Homo sapiens: one gene and its partners. The protein of the gene in region 4 purifies or fractionates together with the protein of the main gene of each other region. This does not show direct contact. Each region holds a gene or a part of one and is shown on either strand. Other genes may lie near its edges.

Region 1 (3,500 bases), on a different chromosome or scaffold from region 4:
TCTACCAGAGGGCAGGCAACACAGCCAAGGGTAGAAGGGCACAAAGGATGGCGGAGGCAGTCCATCTATATTGCACAGATGCGGTCCATATGGATCAGCCTCCCAGAATGCAGAGCTGGCGGGGAGAGGGTGGAGAGAGGATCTGGAGGGACAGTGGAAGATATCCAGCACAGGCCATGAATAGCCTTGGCCCTGGGCCCAGGGGCACCTGACAAATATCATTTCCTGTGTGCCAGGACTTGAAAATGTTGGGAAGTGCTGTTTAGCCTTAGAACACTGATGCATTTACTGATAAGAGCTCATAAGAGAGATGGCCTTTCTCATGGGGCCATAGAACACTACCCCATACACATACACACACACACACACTCAACCACCTCTTGATTAATTAGCAAGGGACATCCTTGGATGTGGCTGTGGCTGTTCATGTGCTCTCGTGGGTATAGAGAATACCACTCAACTATATTTGAGCAGATGCCGTAGCCAGAAAAACGTCAGCCTTCTTCATTCTGTGACCACAATGAGTCACAGGGAGGTGTAGCTAGAAAACTCAAGACTCAATGCAAGTGGAGAAGATCCTCATTTTGTTCTATGAGGCCCCAGCAAGTAGAGACCAAGAAGGCCAGAACACCTTTGAGCACAGAGCAAGTTGGAAAGGTGGCAGGTGGAAAGCTTCCATGTATCAACACCTGTGACCTGGTGGGGCCTGGGTAAGGTGAAGCTGGTCTACCTTAGGTGGGAGCTTGGTGAGAACAGGGACTGGCAGGGTGGGCAGGTGCTCATGGGGAGGCCAGGGCAGAGCTGTGTGGAACTCGGCACTTTGGCCAAGGCTTTTAATGAAGGTGCCCTTGATGAAGATGAAAAAAAAAAACACATATCCTATAGAACAGAGGTCAGCAAACTCTTTCTGTAAAGGACAAGATAGTAAATATTTTAGGCTTCAGTGCCATGTGTTATATGCAGCAATGGCTCACCTCTGCCATGGTGGCACAAAGGAAGCCACATGCGATATGTAAACAAATAAGCATGGCTGTGTTCTAATAAAATTTTATTTACAAAAACAGGTGACAGGATATATTTGGTCTGTGAGCTACAGTTCACAGCACTACCCAGTATGGTAGCCAATAGCCACATATGGCTAATGAGCATTTGAAATGTGCTCTGAGGGTAAAATACGCACCAGATTTTGAAGAGTTTGTAAAATAAAAAAGTTAGCCATCTCATTAATAATTATATTGAGGATATATTGAAATAATATTTTGATATAGCTAGTTATATAAAATACATTATCAAAATTAATTTCACCTGTTTCTTTTTACTTTTTTAAAAAATATGGCCACTAGGAAATTTGAAGTCACATTTTTGGCTCACATCATATTTCTACTTCACAGTGATGCTCTCTCCAGAAAAAATACAGGGCAAGCCTCTGGCCCTTGAAGGGTCTCAGGTAGGAGATTTACCCTTAAAGAGGCGCAATAATGGAATTCAAATATACATAATAAAGTGTATGATAGGAATAGATTTTTCAATATATTACGTATCTTTTTTAAAAAAAATAAGCTATTACAGGAGGCCAAGACGGGCGGATCACAAGGTCAGGAGATCGAGACCATCTTGGCTAACACAGTGAAACCCTGTCTCTACTAAAAACACAAAAAATTAGCCGGGTGTGGTGGCGGGCACCTGTAGTCCCAGCTACTAGGGAGGCTGAGGCAGGAGAATGGCGTGAACCTGGGAGGCAGAGGTTGCAGTGAGCTGAGATCATGCCACTGTACTCCAGCCTGGGTGACAGAGCCAGACTCCGTCTCAAAAAAAAATAGGAAACAAAAAATAAAATAAGCTAGTTTTTTCTGCATCTGTGCTCCTCAAACTGGGAGTTATAGAGCTCTACTTCCACAAGATATTGGCCAGGCGAGGTGGCTCATGCCTGTAAATCCAACATTTGGGGAGGCTGAAGCAGGAGGATCACTTGAAGCCAGAAGTTCGAGACCAGCCTGGGCAACATAGCAAAATCTGACTCTACAAAAATAAAAATAAAAATAATTAGCCAGGCATGATGGCAAGTGCCTGTAGTTACTCAGGAGGCCAAGGTGGGAGAATCACTTGAGCCCAGGAGTTTCAGGCTGTCATGAATTATGATTGTGCCACTGCACTCCAGCCTGGGTGACAGAGCAAGAATCTGTCTCTCTCTCTCTCTCTCTCTCTCTCTCTGTATATATATATATAAAATACATAATATATATATAAAATATATAATATATATTATCTCTCTGTCTCTCTCTCTCTCTCTCTCTCTCTCTCTCTCTCTCTCTATATATATATATATATATATATATATATATATATATATGTAAAACCATTGCTCAAGAAAGGGATGTCTTTATAGTAAAAAGAAATAGGAGTAATGCAAACTTAAACATTAATTTAGTGTTTCACTGCAGCAGAATTTCTCAATTCTTCTAAACTTGCTCATGCGTACAGAGCTATTGTGAGAGAAAGCAAGAGTAGGCAATGCTTCCCCACCTTACTGGCCTTAGAAGCCATTTTTGCAGAACTCTAATTAGTATGTTTAGCAGGCAATTTGAGGGGCTGGGCACGGTGGCTCACGCTTGTAATCCCAGCACTTTGGGAGGCCGGGGCAGGTGGATCACCTGAGGTCAGGAGTTTGAGAACAGCCCAGCCAACATGGTGAAACCCTGTCTCTACTAAAAATACAAAAAGTTAGCTGGGCATGGTGGTGTGTGCCTGTAGTCCCAGCTATTTGGGAGGCTGAGGCAGGAGAATCACTGGAACCACAGAGGCAGAGGTTGCAGTGAGCCAAGATTGCGCCACTGCGCTCCCCTGGGAGACAGAGTGAGACTCCGTCTCAAAAAAAAAAAAAAGAAAAAAAAAGGCAATTTGAGAAATGCTGGTCTGCATAATGCTACACAATCAGTGTGCTGCATGATTTTCCAAAAGTCCAACTCAACTGGCTATCATTTTGCTCTATCAGTAAAGCCCCAAGAAGCACTGTATCAATAAGGCCACATTTAGTACAACATGGGATAGTGAGGAAACTGTTGACATTTGGAGGCGCAAAGACTTGAGTCAGATTTCTCTTCCTTTCTTTCTTAGATAGCCATTCTTGTAAAAGCACCTACTATGTGCCAGGCAGCGCTTTAGGCTTTGGGCATGCAGTGGTGAATGAAAAGAGGTCCCTTCTTCTTGGGGCTTTACGGCTAGAGCAAAAGAACAAATTATAAAGAAGACAAATAGTTAAAACATAGATAGGGATTAGTTGCAAGGAGAAAATACAGAGCAGAGAAGAGGGCTATGCAGCGGGGCGGGGCAGGGATGATCATGGAAGAGCATCTGGGAAGGCCTCTGGGAGAAGGTAACTTGTGAGTAAAGATCCAAAGGAGGCTCTGAGGCCATGATCAATCCTCGTCTGTGTATAGATAATCCCTTCCTTCTGAAGGGGATTCCTAAAGCCCAAAAGAGCTGATGTATGTGAGGGTCCA
Region 2 (4,049 bases), on a different chromosome or scaffold from region 4:
AATTTTTTTGTATTTGTAGTAGAGACGGGGTTTCATCGTGTTAGCCAGGATGGTCTCGATTTCCTGACTTGTGATCCACCCGCCTCGGCCTCCCAAAGTGCTGGGATTACAGGCATAAGCCACCAGGCCCGGCCTGTTTTTTATCTAAGACTAATGGCGAACTAACGTTTTCTTCCATCTCCTTCCCTTGATGAACTAGGACTGCAGTCATGAAATCCAACTTAAAGTTTCAGGATCTACATGACTAGGTTCAGTGTAACATGTTTTAATAATAGTCCAATATAGGCCGGGCGTGGTGGCTCACGCCTGTAATCCCAGCACTTTGGGAGGCTGAGGCGGGCGGATCACGAGGTCAGGAGATCGAGACCATCCTGGCTAACATGGTGAAACCCCAAACCCCGTCTCTACTAAAAAAATTAGCCGGGCGTGGTGGCACGCGCCTCTAGTCCCAGCTACTAGGGAGGCTGAGGCAGGAGAATCGCTTGAACCCGGGAGGCGGAAGTTGCGGTGAGCCGATATCGCGCCACCGTACTCCAGCCTAGGTGACAGAGACTCCGTCTCAAAATAATAATAATAATAATAATAGTCCAATATATAAAGCTAGTAATATAAACAATACATTTTACATGACAACACTTTGACTGGAGAAAGTGTTTTCAAGCGTAAGCACAGGCTTTGGAGTCAGGCAGACCTGGGTTTGAATACTCATTTCACCATTTATAGCAATGTGACCTGCAAAAAGATGCTTTTCTAGCCAGTTTCGTACTGGCAGTCACTGACAATACCATCCACCTCATGGGCTGTTGTGTGGAGTCAATTAAATGATCTTATAAGGTGCATGAAACACCTTAGGTACTTAAAAAATGGTAGCTGCTCTTCTTATTATGAACAAAATCAATTACTTAAAAACTTTAACACAAGAATGACATCTATAAAATGGGAATAGGGGACTTACTGTGAAGATTCAATGAGCCTATGATTTAAAAAAAACTAGTTTATATTTATGGAGCACTTCAAAACACACCACGCTCTTAAATTTTAAGTACTTTAAAATGTGCCAGAACAGTGCTTGGCAAGTAGTAAAAAACATTAGCTACTATTGTTCTTGCATTTAGCGTGTGTCCCTCTCGCTAGATTGTAAGCACTGTAAAAGTCCCTGCTAGTCTTGTTCAAGGCAACCTGCAGTATGGCAGGCACACCAGAGGTGTTCAAAAAATATCTGCTGAATGAATGAAGAGTAAACTTTGTGCTGAAGATACAAGGGCAAACACACCTTTCAACAATATCTGGATACTTTCATCGCACTTTTAACCCCCACCTCATTCCTCGCCTTCCTGGCCCCTAAAAGTGGGACAGTATGTGAAGAGACGGGCGGAACTACTTTACCTGAAGAACAGAAGATCTCTGGAGCACCTTCTCCTGCGCTGATGGGTACAAAACTAGTTTCTCCAGCAGTTCTTTGTGAAGTGGGTCGGACTCGAGGGCTTCGTAGAATGAAATGTCATGCTGGCTAAGAAGGCTGAACTTAGACTTTCGGTAGAAAGTGGCCAGGCCTTCGTGCTGCTTGATTCGAAACACCCCCTCGAGCCCGAAGGCCTCTAGGGCGGGTACCAAGCTGTCAGAAAACACTGCGCGGTCAACCTCCTGCAAACAGATGACATCGGCGTTGTAGCCGGTGAGTTCCTTCTGGATAAGGTTCTGGCGGTAGTCGAGCTCCAGGGCGTAGGGGGCACAGTATGGGTACAGAACCGTTCGCGAGAACTCAGTCTGCGCGTACGTGTCTGCCAGGATGTTGTAAGAGACAGTGCGGATGAGAGCGTCCTCAGTCACCTTCTTCGTGTAGAGATGCCGGTGGTCAAAAGTGCAGGTGCCAGGCCCAGCCTCTACCACACACACACTTTCCAACTCCCGGCTGTGCCCAAAGCGCTGCCCATCGCCTGGGGTGCAGTGAAGCTTGAGCCTTAGCCCGATGTCGGCATTGGACGGGGTGTAGACACGCTCCTCCACATCAGTCTCAGTCCAAGAAGAAGAAGGTGAGGAGGGAGACAATGACGAGGGGACACCGACCTCGGGCTCCGCCGCTCCGGGCTTGGCTTCCTTATACCAGCGGAAAAGGGAGCTGGCGGGATCCCCAAATTCGAGGCTGAGTTTGGGGCACACAGGGAACCCGGCCATGATGTAGCGCGGCAACTGCAGTTCGGTGAAGGCGGGCGGGTTGCGCTCCACCTTGTACTTAACATCGCCGATCTGCAGCACCGCGCCGTCTTGCCAGGCATCCACGTTGAGCACGTCCTCAGCCACTGCCTCTTCCCGGTAGTACAGCTTCACCACGGGCTCGCAGAACACAGCCGGCTCAGGCCCCGGCCCTGAACAGGCCGCACCGCCGCTAGCATTCGGCCGGCTCTTCCTGCTCTTCTTGGCGGCGGCCGCCTTAGCGTGACCCTTTAGGGCATTGGTAGCGATGCGGCTGAGGACTCGACCCAGCGGCTCGCTCTGGTCGCGCTGCATGTTCTTGTGGCTACCATCAGCCAAAGCGAATGACAGGCTCAGCTTGGGTTCCGAAGGTACGCAGCGCACTACAGCGCGCTCCATCGCTCCCGCCGCTGTCTGGCTCCCCGCTTCAGCCCGGCTCAGCTTCTCCACCGCCGTCCGGATCACCCGAAGCGCGGCGCGGGCGCCTGGGAGCCTCCACATGAACCTGGTGGCCTAGCGGTCGACAAGACCCGCGGCCGATCAGCGGCCTACTGTCAGGTGGAGCTGAGGAGCCGAGGCCGCCGGCTTTGACTCATTCAGATCTCGCGACTTCCGGCTAGCGAAGAGAGGGAATGAAGTGCTTCCGACTCGCACTTTCGCCTAGCGCGTGGGCACGCATGTCTGTAATACTCTGAAGATTAATTTTTACCTACACGATAGGTCAGAATTATAGGGAAGTGAAGAAAATATAAAGGTGTCAGAGGAAAATACTAGATTCCACGGTTTTGTCGAAAGTGCATGCTGGTGACGGGAGGGCATGCCCTCCAAGCCGGAAGTGGATAGGGTGGTGTCACGTGTTCCGCTTCGTTGGAGGAGGTGGACACCTGTCTTGGAATCTTGGCTGACCAGCTCTCCTCCCTGCGCCCGGGACTGGACTGCGCTAGGACGTGGAGGCCTCCACCCGGATTGCGAGCTTTACTCGCAGTGTGGAAGGTGTTGCCCATTTCATCTCCACAGCTTTGCCGACCCTGATCGCTCGTTTCGGTGGCCTGGTGGGTTCACCCCAGGCTGAGCCAGCGCCTACGCACCTCTGAGCAGAGCCTTTGTGGTAGTTAACAACGAACGATATACAATAACTCCGTTTAGTGAGCGCAGACTATGCGAGAAACGCTACACACACTATCTTATTTAAGCCTCATAGTTCTTATGAGGTAGGTCTCTTTATCCATCGCTTTACAGATGCAGAGTCCCGAGATATTACCTGCTCAGGGTCACACAACTATTAATTGGCAGAAAGAAATAGTACTGACAAACTGCGGAAGGCTGTTTGTTATTTTTTATTAGAGACAGGTTGTCACTTTGACGCCCAAGCTGGAGTGCAGTGGCCTGATCATAGCTCACTGCCCCCTCGAACTCCAGGGCTCGTGCGATCCTCCCGCCTAACCCTCTCAAGTACAAACAGGCAAGAGCCACCCAGTGTTTATTTTTAGTTAGTAAATAGGAAGACTCTATTTAGTTACTACATTTAACAAATAAAATTACAGGATCTCAGTTAAATTCAATTTCAGATAAGGAATAATAATGGGGCATATATTAAGAAATAGTTGTTTATCTGTTTATTTTATTTTTTTATTTTTTAGGTAGGGCCTTGCTCTTTCACCCAAGCTGGAGTGCAGCTGTGCGATCTTGGCTTACTGCAACTTCGGCTTCCAGAGTTCAAGCGATTCTCGTGCCTCAGCCTCCCAAGTAGCTGGGACTACAGGCACACACCACCACGCCCAGCTAATTTTTGTATTTTAGTAGAGAAGGGCTTCACCATGTTTCCTGGGCTGGTCGCGAACTCCTGGCCTCAAGCA
Region 3 (4,091 bases), on a different chromosome or scaffold from region 4:
AATTAAAATGCTTCAAGGAAAAATTAAAACCAAAGATGATCTTTTGTCTAAATAAAACACAAGGTATTTTTAGAATCTAGATTATAACTTCTCTCATAATAGCAAAACAGTATAAACGGTCAGACTGTTTTCTGAATTCATCTTCAACCTCCCTAGAATTTAAGTAATATTGTCCCCATTTTAGAGATAAGGTAGTTGATGAGATCATACCACAAGCCAATTTACTAAAATCAGTGTTCCACTTACTAACTCACATAAATATATTTAAAAAACTAAATTTAAGAATAAAGTTTAATGACAGTGAATTAATCACCCTTTTGGATATAAGGTTTGCTGTCTAGATCATCACATCCTCTTTGTTTATTCTAAGGCTCATTACCTCATTTGCTGCAGGGCCCTGGCTGGGTTGGAGCCCATTCGGTCCAATTTGTTAATAAAAGTTAGAAACGGAACGTTGTAGCGCTTCATCTGACGATTGACAGTCATGGTCTGGCACTGTACCCCTCCAACAGCACAGAGAACAAGGACTGCACCATCCAACACTCTCAGGGCCCTTTCCACTTCTATTGTGAAGTCCACATGCCCTGAATAAGATGAAGTATGAGAGGGTCTTAAAGAGCAATCTGAATTTTTAATATATGCACTATTAGAAGTTTTTGTATCTCTGCTCATCACATAAGTCTTCTAATAAGAATGTAGATTCCTGAGCTCACCAATACTATTCACCAACCCTTAGGTGCAGGGCCTGGCAAGATCACTTCAAGAAAATACTAGGGCACAGGCACCTTTAGAATCAGCTAGAATATGTAAAAGGCAAGAATCTGCCTACTCACAATTTACTTGCACAAATTTTCAAGAAAACTACATAAGGATGAAGTGCTCTAGGTCCTAAGTTAGTCTTCTTTAATAGGAATTCAGTGTTACACTTTTGAGTATTTGACAATCAAAAACTAATTGGGTCACAGTAAGAGAAAGAACCAAATGTGCTTTTGCCAAAGAAGCTGCAATAAAACCAAGAATCCAACTCACCAGGAGTATCTATAATGTTAATATTGACATCTTTCCACATGGTGTAAGTGGCTGCTGACTGAATAGTGATTCCTCTTTGTCTCTCTAGTTCCATGGAATCCATGACAGCACCAACTCCATCTTTACCTTTCACCTAAACACAAGCACAGCAATTCAGACTTTCTCTGTCCCTGCATTCCAAGAAGGAAAGAAATCTTAACTGAAATGGAAACAGTTGCCAGGTGCAGTGGCTCATGCCTATAATCCCAGCACTGTGGGAGACTGAGGCAGGATGATAATTTGAGCCCAAGAGTTTGAGACCAGCCTGAGCAACAAAGTGAGACCTCTTCTATAAAAAATAAAAATAAAACCAGAACACAGATACTTAACTTAAGCAACTTTCAGATAAGCCTAACTGTCAAAAGTCCGCTGTTACCATTGTTTTAATCTTTCAGGTTTATAAGCTTTATTAAATAATAGCAACAAAACAATTAAAATCTGGTTCTAATTAATCCGGAATCAACCGTGAATATATACCTCATGCATCTTTGCAATTCTGCCAGTGTAGTAAAGGACTCGTTCTGTTAATGTAGTTTTCCCAGAATCAATGTGAGCTGAGATTCCAATATTTCGTATTTTTTCATTAGGAATCACCCCTGATGAAGACCATCGGCAGGCCTTCCAATTAACCTGAAAAAAATACGAGAGCTCAATTCTATGCACCTTTTATAAGAGAGAACAACAGACAATTAAAAGGAGTATGGTGGACATTATTCCTCCAAGAAATCTCACTGGATATGAGATAGCTTGAGAAAGGCACCAGGGGAAACCTTTAAGCCTGGAACTCTTGTAATCAGAGGACAGACTTCAAAACAAGACAGTAAAGACGTATTCTTTTAAAATTAATTAATGAATAAGTTAAATTTAATTAAAATGGGAGACACTTTTTACTGCAGATTTGAAAATACACACTGGGGCAGATAAAATCACAAAGACAGCTCCAAAAAATACTTTAATAGAAAATACAAATTTTAGCTTAAATTTAACTTAATTTTTTTCCCTTTCTCCTTTATTGTAGTTCACAGATGACAAATATGTTTGAGAACTTATATGCTCTATGCAGTGATGCTAGTAGCTCCAAGACAGCCCCCAAAGATTTCCAATTCCCTCCAAACAAAAACAATTCATGAAGCTTGTTTTAACTTTACTCTGGTGGCAGGGGATGGGGATCCCTATTAGATGGAATGAAGATACAATATAAACCTTTCCCTATAGGACTGCACATCCAAAATGCACAATTATTCACGGGAAAAGAGAGGCAAAAAAAAAAAAAAAAAACCTTAGAAAAGGTGGATAAAATATCAAAGTATCTGAGTGACAGACACTTTTAGTTGATTAAACCCTAGGGATACCAGAGAGCGAAACAAACGAGCTAACGAGCTAATGTGCAGGCACCGAGGTGCTTTTCAGCACTGACGAGCGACTGCCAGTATTCGGAGCTGTCAGTCATGAGGACCCAGGGGGTGTCACGGCCTTCCATTGCCCAGAAGGGATCACAAGGTTCCGGGAATGGTCCCGATTTAGCCTCTCTATGCTCCGGTACCTGCTTCCTCTGCCAGCCTAGGGAGGCGGGGGCCCTTCCGCGCCCCAGAGCCGCGACGGCTGCAGCTCCCAGGAGTCTCATGGCAAGCGCAGAGCACGCGTCAAAGTCCCGTGGCGCCGGGTGGGTTCAGCTGCCGGTAACGCACCGGGAAGCGGTCAAAGTCACGCCGGCAGCCAATGTTGTAAGAGCACTTCCGGGGCAAAGGACGCGAGGAAAAAGAGAGTGAGGAAAAGAAAGAAGAGCAACTGGATTGGAGGCGGAGCAGTGCCTACGCTGCTCGCGCGCCGTCTGCCGACTTGGAAGAGAAAGTGCAATCGCTTTGCGGAGCTAAAGAAGTGTTTGCTCCCAGTAAGACGGCATAGGTATATGGGTGAGGGAAGGGAGTCCTTTTGTCTTCGTCTTCTTTTTTAAATATTACCTCTGTATGAAGATACAGAATTTAAACATGGTTGTTAGGCCTATAAAGCAATGTGGAGAAATGTATATAACAATTTAAGTAGAAAAGAGCAAAATTGTCTATTACAAATATTAATAGGTATATATATGACATGGCCTGAAAAAGAACGTGGACAAATTATAGTGAATGAACTATCAATTACAATTACAAATACTTTTCCTCATGTCAAAATGTTATTTGTTATTGTTCGATGTCAGACATTTCATGTCCTGTCCATGTGGAAGACTGCATCCTTGACCATTCTGCTTGGATGTGTTAAGAGGCATGTTGAACCTAACAGGTCCAAAACTGAGCTTCGGATCTTCTTCCCCAAACCTTCCACAGTCTTATCCATCTCATAAATGTAAACTTTAGTGATTCTAGCCAAAAATATTAGTCGCTTTGACACCATGCTGTGACATCTCCGGTCTAATCAGTCAGCATATCCTGTAAGCTCTACTTTCAAAAAGACATCCAGGGCCGGACGCGGTGGCTCACACCTGTAGTCCCAGCACTTTGGAAGGCCGAGGCGGGCAGATCACGAGGTCATGAGATGGAGACCATCCTGGCTAACACAGTGAAACCCCGTCTCTACTAAAAATACAAAAAAAAATTAGCCGGGCGCGGTGGCGGGCGCCTGTAGTCCCAGCTACTCGGGAGGCTGAGGCAGGAGAATGGTGTGAACCCAGGAGGCGGAGCTTGCAGTGAGCCGAGATCACGCCACTGCACTCCACCCTGGGTGACAGAGCGAGTCTCAAAAAAAAAAAAAAAAAAAGAAAATCCAGAACTTACTTCTCCCCACCTCTCAGTACTGCCGTTTCTGGAGGGAACTATTGTAATAGCCTTGTAACCGATCTCACTGCTTCTATCCTTGCTGTTGTCAGTGGGCCGGTTCAGGTGCTTGACTTCACCACACAAAAGAATTTGAAAGCAAGTACAAAGTAAGAGTAGGCAAAAAAGTTTATTGTAAACCAAAAGTACACTCTGAGAGGCAGAGTGGGCTGCTCAGAAGAGAGACAGACAGCCTTTAGTATCTCTAGGGAA
Region 4 (3,500 bases):
CCAGAAACCATGATTACGTAAACTAAAAATCCTACACAGAAAACTAATGACCATAAGCAAAGTCAACGAACTAGGAAATAAAATATTTTATTTATATGTTATTAAACATAATATTTTATCTTTACATTTTAATAAAGCTCTGTCCATATTGAAAGAAAATCAGTAATAAAAAGACTGCCAACCAAGTAGAAAAGTGTTGAAGGCCATGAACAGGGAGTTCTCAAAATAAGACATATAAATAGGTTTATGAACATGAAATAGTTTTCAACCTCAGTCATAAAAAACAAGTCAGATTTAAAATAACCATTTTTTACACTTTAAATTGAGAAAAATCAAAAGATTTGACAAGAATTAATAAGAATATAGAGTAGCATATACCTTCTTACACCACTGGTAAAAGTTTAAAATGCTATGTCTTTAGAAGGCAGTTTGACAGTCTAACAAACGTAAATGCACATACCTTTTGACTCAGCAATCGCACTTCTGTGTGTGACTTGTAAAACATACAGGGAGTACTAAAACTATTCAAAGGAATAAAGTAGAGCTTTGTGTGGTGGTATGTGTCAATATCCAAGACATGTTATTAAGTGAAAAAGGCAAGGTGCAGAACAGTAAATGCATACAGTCTGCCGCCACGAGTAAAGAAAACAAAAGATTATATTTACATTTATACTTGTGCACAGAAATTTTCTAGGAGGATACACTAATGTTAGCTGCCATGGGGAGGTAAACTGAGGAGTTCAGGCTGGAAGAATTTACCAAATAGATGCTTACTTTCCAACAAAAAGAAAATAAGACACCTGAAGCAAAAAAGCAAACCAACGGATAATTTAAAAGTTATAAAGTTTGCTATTGTTAGAGAAGTTTTTGCTGGATATAGTACTTGTTTACATTGTTTTAGGGAACTTTATTATATGTTCAAAAACAAACGAAGTAGTCAGATGACCTCTTAAGACTTCCAACTCAGCTTCGGTGATTGTCAATTTAGGCAACAATATCCACTTACATTAAAAGTAAATGTCTGCTGGGCGCGGTGGCTCACGCTTGTAATCCCAGCGCTTTGGGAGGCTGAGGCTGGCAGATCACCTGAGGTCAGGAGTTCAAGACCAACAGGGCCAACATGGTTGAAACCCCATCTCCACTAAAAATACAAGCAAATTAGCTAGGCGTGTTGGCGGGTGCCTATAATCCCAGCTATAGGGGAGGCTGAGGTGGGAGGATTGCTTGAACCCAGGAAGCAGAGGCTACAGTGAGCCAAGATCATGCCACTGCACTCCAGTCTGGGCAACAGACCGAGACTCCCTCTCAAAAAAAAAAAAAAATTGATAGATAAATATTTGTTTTAGGCTCATGTACACATTACCCACAGTTGTTCTTTTTCCCAATTATAGGGGTTCCAATTTCATCTGCTGTTGCAGGCGTAGCAATAGGATTGGTCACCAAAACCGATCCTGAGAAGGGTGAAATAGAAGATTATCGTTTGCTGACAGATATTTTGGCAAGTATATTCTCGGTTTCAAATATTTAATAATGAAGACTAAAAATAAATAAATAAAAATTAAAAGATAAAAACAAATAATGGTGAAGACTATATGTACTTTGCACCTAGCGTATGCTTAGAAGAATGCTAGTATTTGAAGAACAGGTACTTGTTCTTCCCTTCCTCCTCTGCATGTTCACCTTGTATCTTATAGGATATGAATTTAAAATAGATATTATATTAATAGTAATAGGCCAGGCACAGTGACTCATGCCTGTAATCCCAGCACTTTGGGAAGTCAGGAGTTCCAGACCAGTCTGGCTAATGTGGCAAAACTCCATCTCTACTAAAAATACAAAAATTAGCCTGGGCATGGTGGCACACACCTGTAATCCCATCTACTTGGCAGGCTGAGGCAGAATTGCTTGAACCCGGGAGGCAGAGGTTGCAGTGAGCCAAGATCGTGCCACTGCACTCCATCCTGGGCAACAGAGCAAGACTGTGTCTCAAAATAAGTAAAATAAAATAAAATAAAATGATTACTTTAAAAAAATAGTAATACTTACCCTTAAGTATTGCAGTAATACTTACACAGTGTAAGTATTCATAATGACTCACTTTAGGATGAGCATAAATTCATTCTCAGGCATTTATGAGGGAAAGGAATGATCTAAAAATAAAATGATGTTTCTGGTGAAAATAATTGTAGCTTAAAAAGTCACAAATTGGAAGTGGTAGTTAATGTAGAAAACATTGCTTTGTGTTTGGACTTAGGATATGGTTTACTTCTAAAGCTGTTTTTTGAAATGTTTCTACAGTGAATATGTTGACTTTTGTTTTTGTTTAAAACTATGTCATAACTTTTTAAATTCCTGAAGGGAATTGAAGATTACAATGGTGACATGGACTTCAAAATAGCTGGCACTAATAAAGGAATAACTGCATTACAGGTATTTTTAAAACCCATTTTGTTTCATTTTTGTAACATTTAAATAATGCCATGAGTCAATATTTATATAATTGTTTGACTTTTCCATATTAGGCTGATATTAAATTACCTGGAATACCAATAAAAATTGTGATGGAGGCTATTCAACAAGCTTCAGGTGAGCTAGTGTGCTTGATTCTCCCTTCATTCTTTTCCACTTTGCTAATGGGAACTATAGTTCTCATTAGGCTTATTATAAAATATTGCTTTAAAAAGTGGAATTTCATATAACTTAGATCAAGAAGTACTGGCCAGGTGTGGTGGCTCATGTCTGTAATCCCAGCACTTTGAGAGGCCGAGGCAGGCAGATCACTTCAGGTCAGGAGTTCGAGACCAGCCTGGCCAACATGGTGAAACCCTGTCTCTACTAAAAGTACAAAAATTAGCCGGGCATGGTGGTGCATACCTGTAATCCCAGCTACTCAGGAGGCTGAGACAAGAGAATCGCTTGAGCCCAGGAGGCAGAGGTTACAGTGAGCCGAGATCATGCCATTGCGCGCCAGCCTGGGTGACAGAGGGAAAATGTCTCAAAAAAAAAGAAGTACTAAGTAGCCAGGCATGGCATGGTGGCTCATCCTAGCACTTTGGGAGGCCAAGGCAGGAAGATTGCTTGAGCCCCAGGAGTTCAAGACCAGCCTGGGCAACGTAGTGAGATCCCATATCTATTTTAAAAAAAGAAGAAGCACAACTAAGTTTTTGGGACACATGAATACACGCCAAAGTGGGTTACCAGTGAAATTTCAATTTTTACAAATTAAACAACTCTATTTAAGATGGGATTTTTGGAGAAGAGAATATGAGTGAATTTTCAAGGTAATAGGGATGTGGAAAGCTTCAATTATTAAGCTACAGGGTTTAGATTGTATACCGTGAAAACTAAGAGTACAGTATTTCAGATCATATTTGTTTTATGTAGTTATAATTTTTGTGTTTTTCTCTTCTAGTGGCAAAAAAGGAGATATTACAGATCATGAACAAAACTATTTCAAAACCTCGAGCATCTAGAAAAGAAAATGGACCTGTTGTAGGTAA

What was found. Proteins that work in one complex are often made in the same cells at the same time.
Region 1: the proteins of PNPT1 (region 4) and LRFN2 purify together in Homo sapiens (affinity purification with mass spectrometry; one large-scale study listed by BioGRID and IntAct). This does not show direct contact.
Region 2: the proteins of PNPT1 (region 4) and PDE12 purify together in Homo sapiens (affinity purification with mass spectrometry; one large-scale study listed by BioGRID and IntAct). This does not show direct contact.
Region 3: the proteins of PNPT1 (region 4) and GFM1 fractionate together in Homo sapiens (co-fractionation; one large-scale study listed by BioGRID). This does not show direct contact.

What each region holds. Positions count from the first base shown.
Region 1 is NC_000006.12:40,433,865-40,437,364, reverse strand, and holds part of LRFN2 (leucine-rich repeat and fibronectin type-III domain-containing protein 2 precursor), read left to right. Parts: intron 1-3,500. UniProt on the Homo sapiens protein: Promotes neurite outgrowth in hippocampal neurons. Enhances the cell surface expression of 2 NMDA receptor subunits GRIN1 and GRIN2A. May play a role in redistributing DLG4 to the cell periphery.
Region 2 is NC_000003.12:57,555,025-57,559,073, reverse strand, and holds the start of PDE12 (2',5'-phosphodiesterase 12 isoform 1 precursor), read right to left. Parts: upstream 2,801-4,049; 5' UTR 2,695-2,800; coding exon 1,387-2,694; intron 1-1,386. UniProt on the Homo sapiens protein: Enzyme that cleaves 2',5'-phosphodiester bond linking adenosines of the 5'-triphosphorylated oligoadenylates, triphosphorylated oligoadenylates referred as 2-5A modulates the 2-5A system. Degrades triphosphorylated 2-5A to produce AMP and ATP.
Region 3 is NC_000003.12:158,643,236-158,647,326, reverse strand, and holds the start of GFM1 (elongation factor G, mitochondrial), read right to left. Parts: upstream 2,801-4,091; 5' UTR 2,693-2,800; coding exon 2,612-2,692; exon of another isoform or gene 2,446-2,611; intron 1,699-2,445; coding exon 1,546-1,698; intron 1,163-1,545; coding exon 1,030-1,162; intron 585-1,029; coding exon 380-584; intron 1-379. UniProt on the Homo sapiens protein: Mitochondrial GTPase that catalyzes the GTP-dependent ribosomal translocation step during translation elongation.
Region 4 is NC_000002.12:55,645,345-55,648,844, reverse strand, and holds part of PNPT1 (polyribonucleotide nucleotidyltransferase 1, mitochondrial precursor), read left to right. Parts: intron 1-1,391; coding exon 1,392-1,498; exon of another isoform or gene 1,499-1,572; intron 1,573-2,358; coding exon 2,359-2,430; intron 2,431-2,522; coding exon 2,523-2,586; intron 2,587-3,412; coding exon 3,413-3,496; intron 3,497-3,500. UniProt on the Homo sapiens protein: RNA-binding protein implicated in numerous RNA metabolic processes. Catalyzes the phosphorolysis of single-stranded polyribonucleotides processively in the 3'-to-5' direction. Mitochondrial intermembrane factor with RNA-processing exoribonulease activity.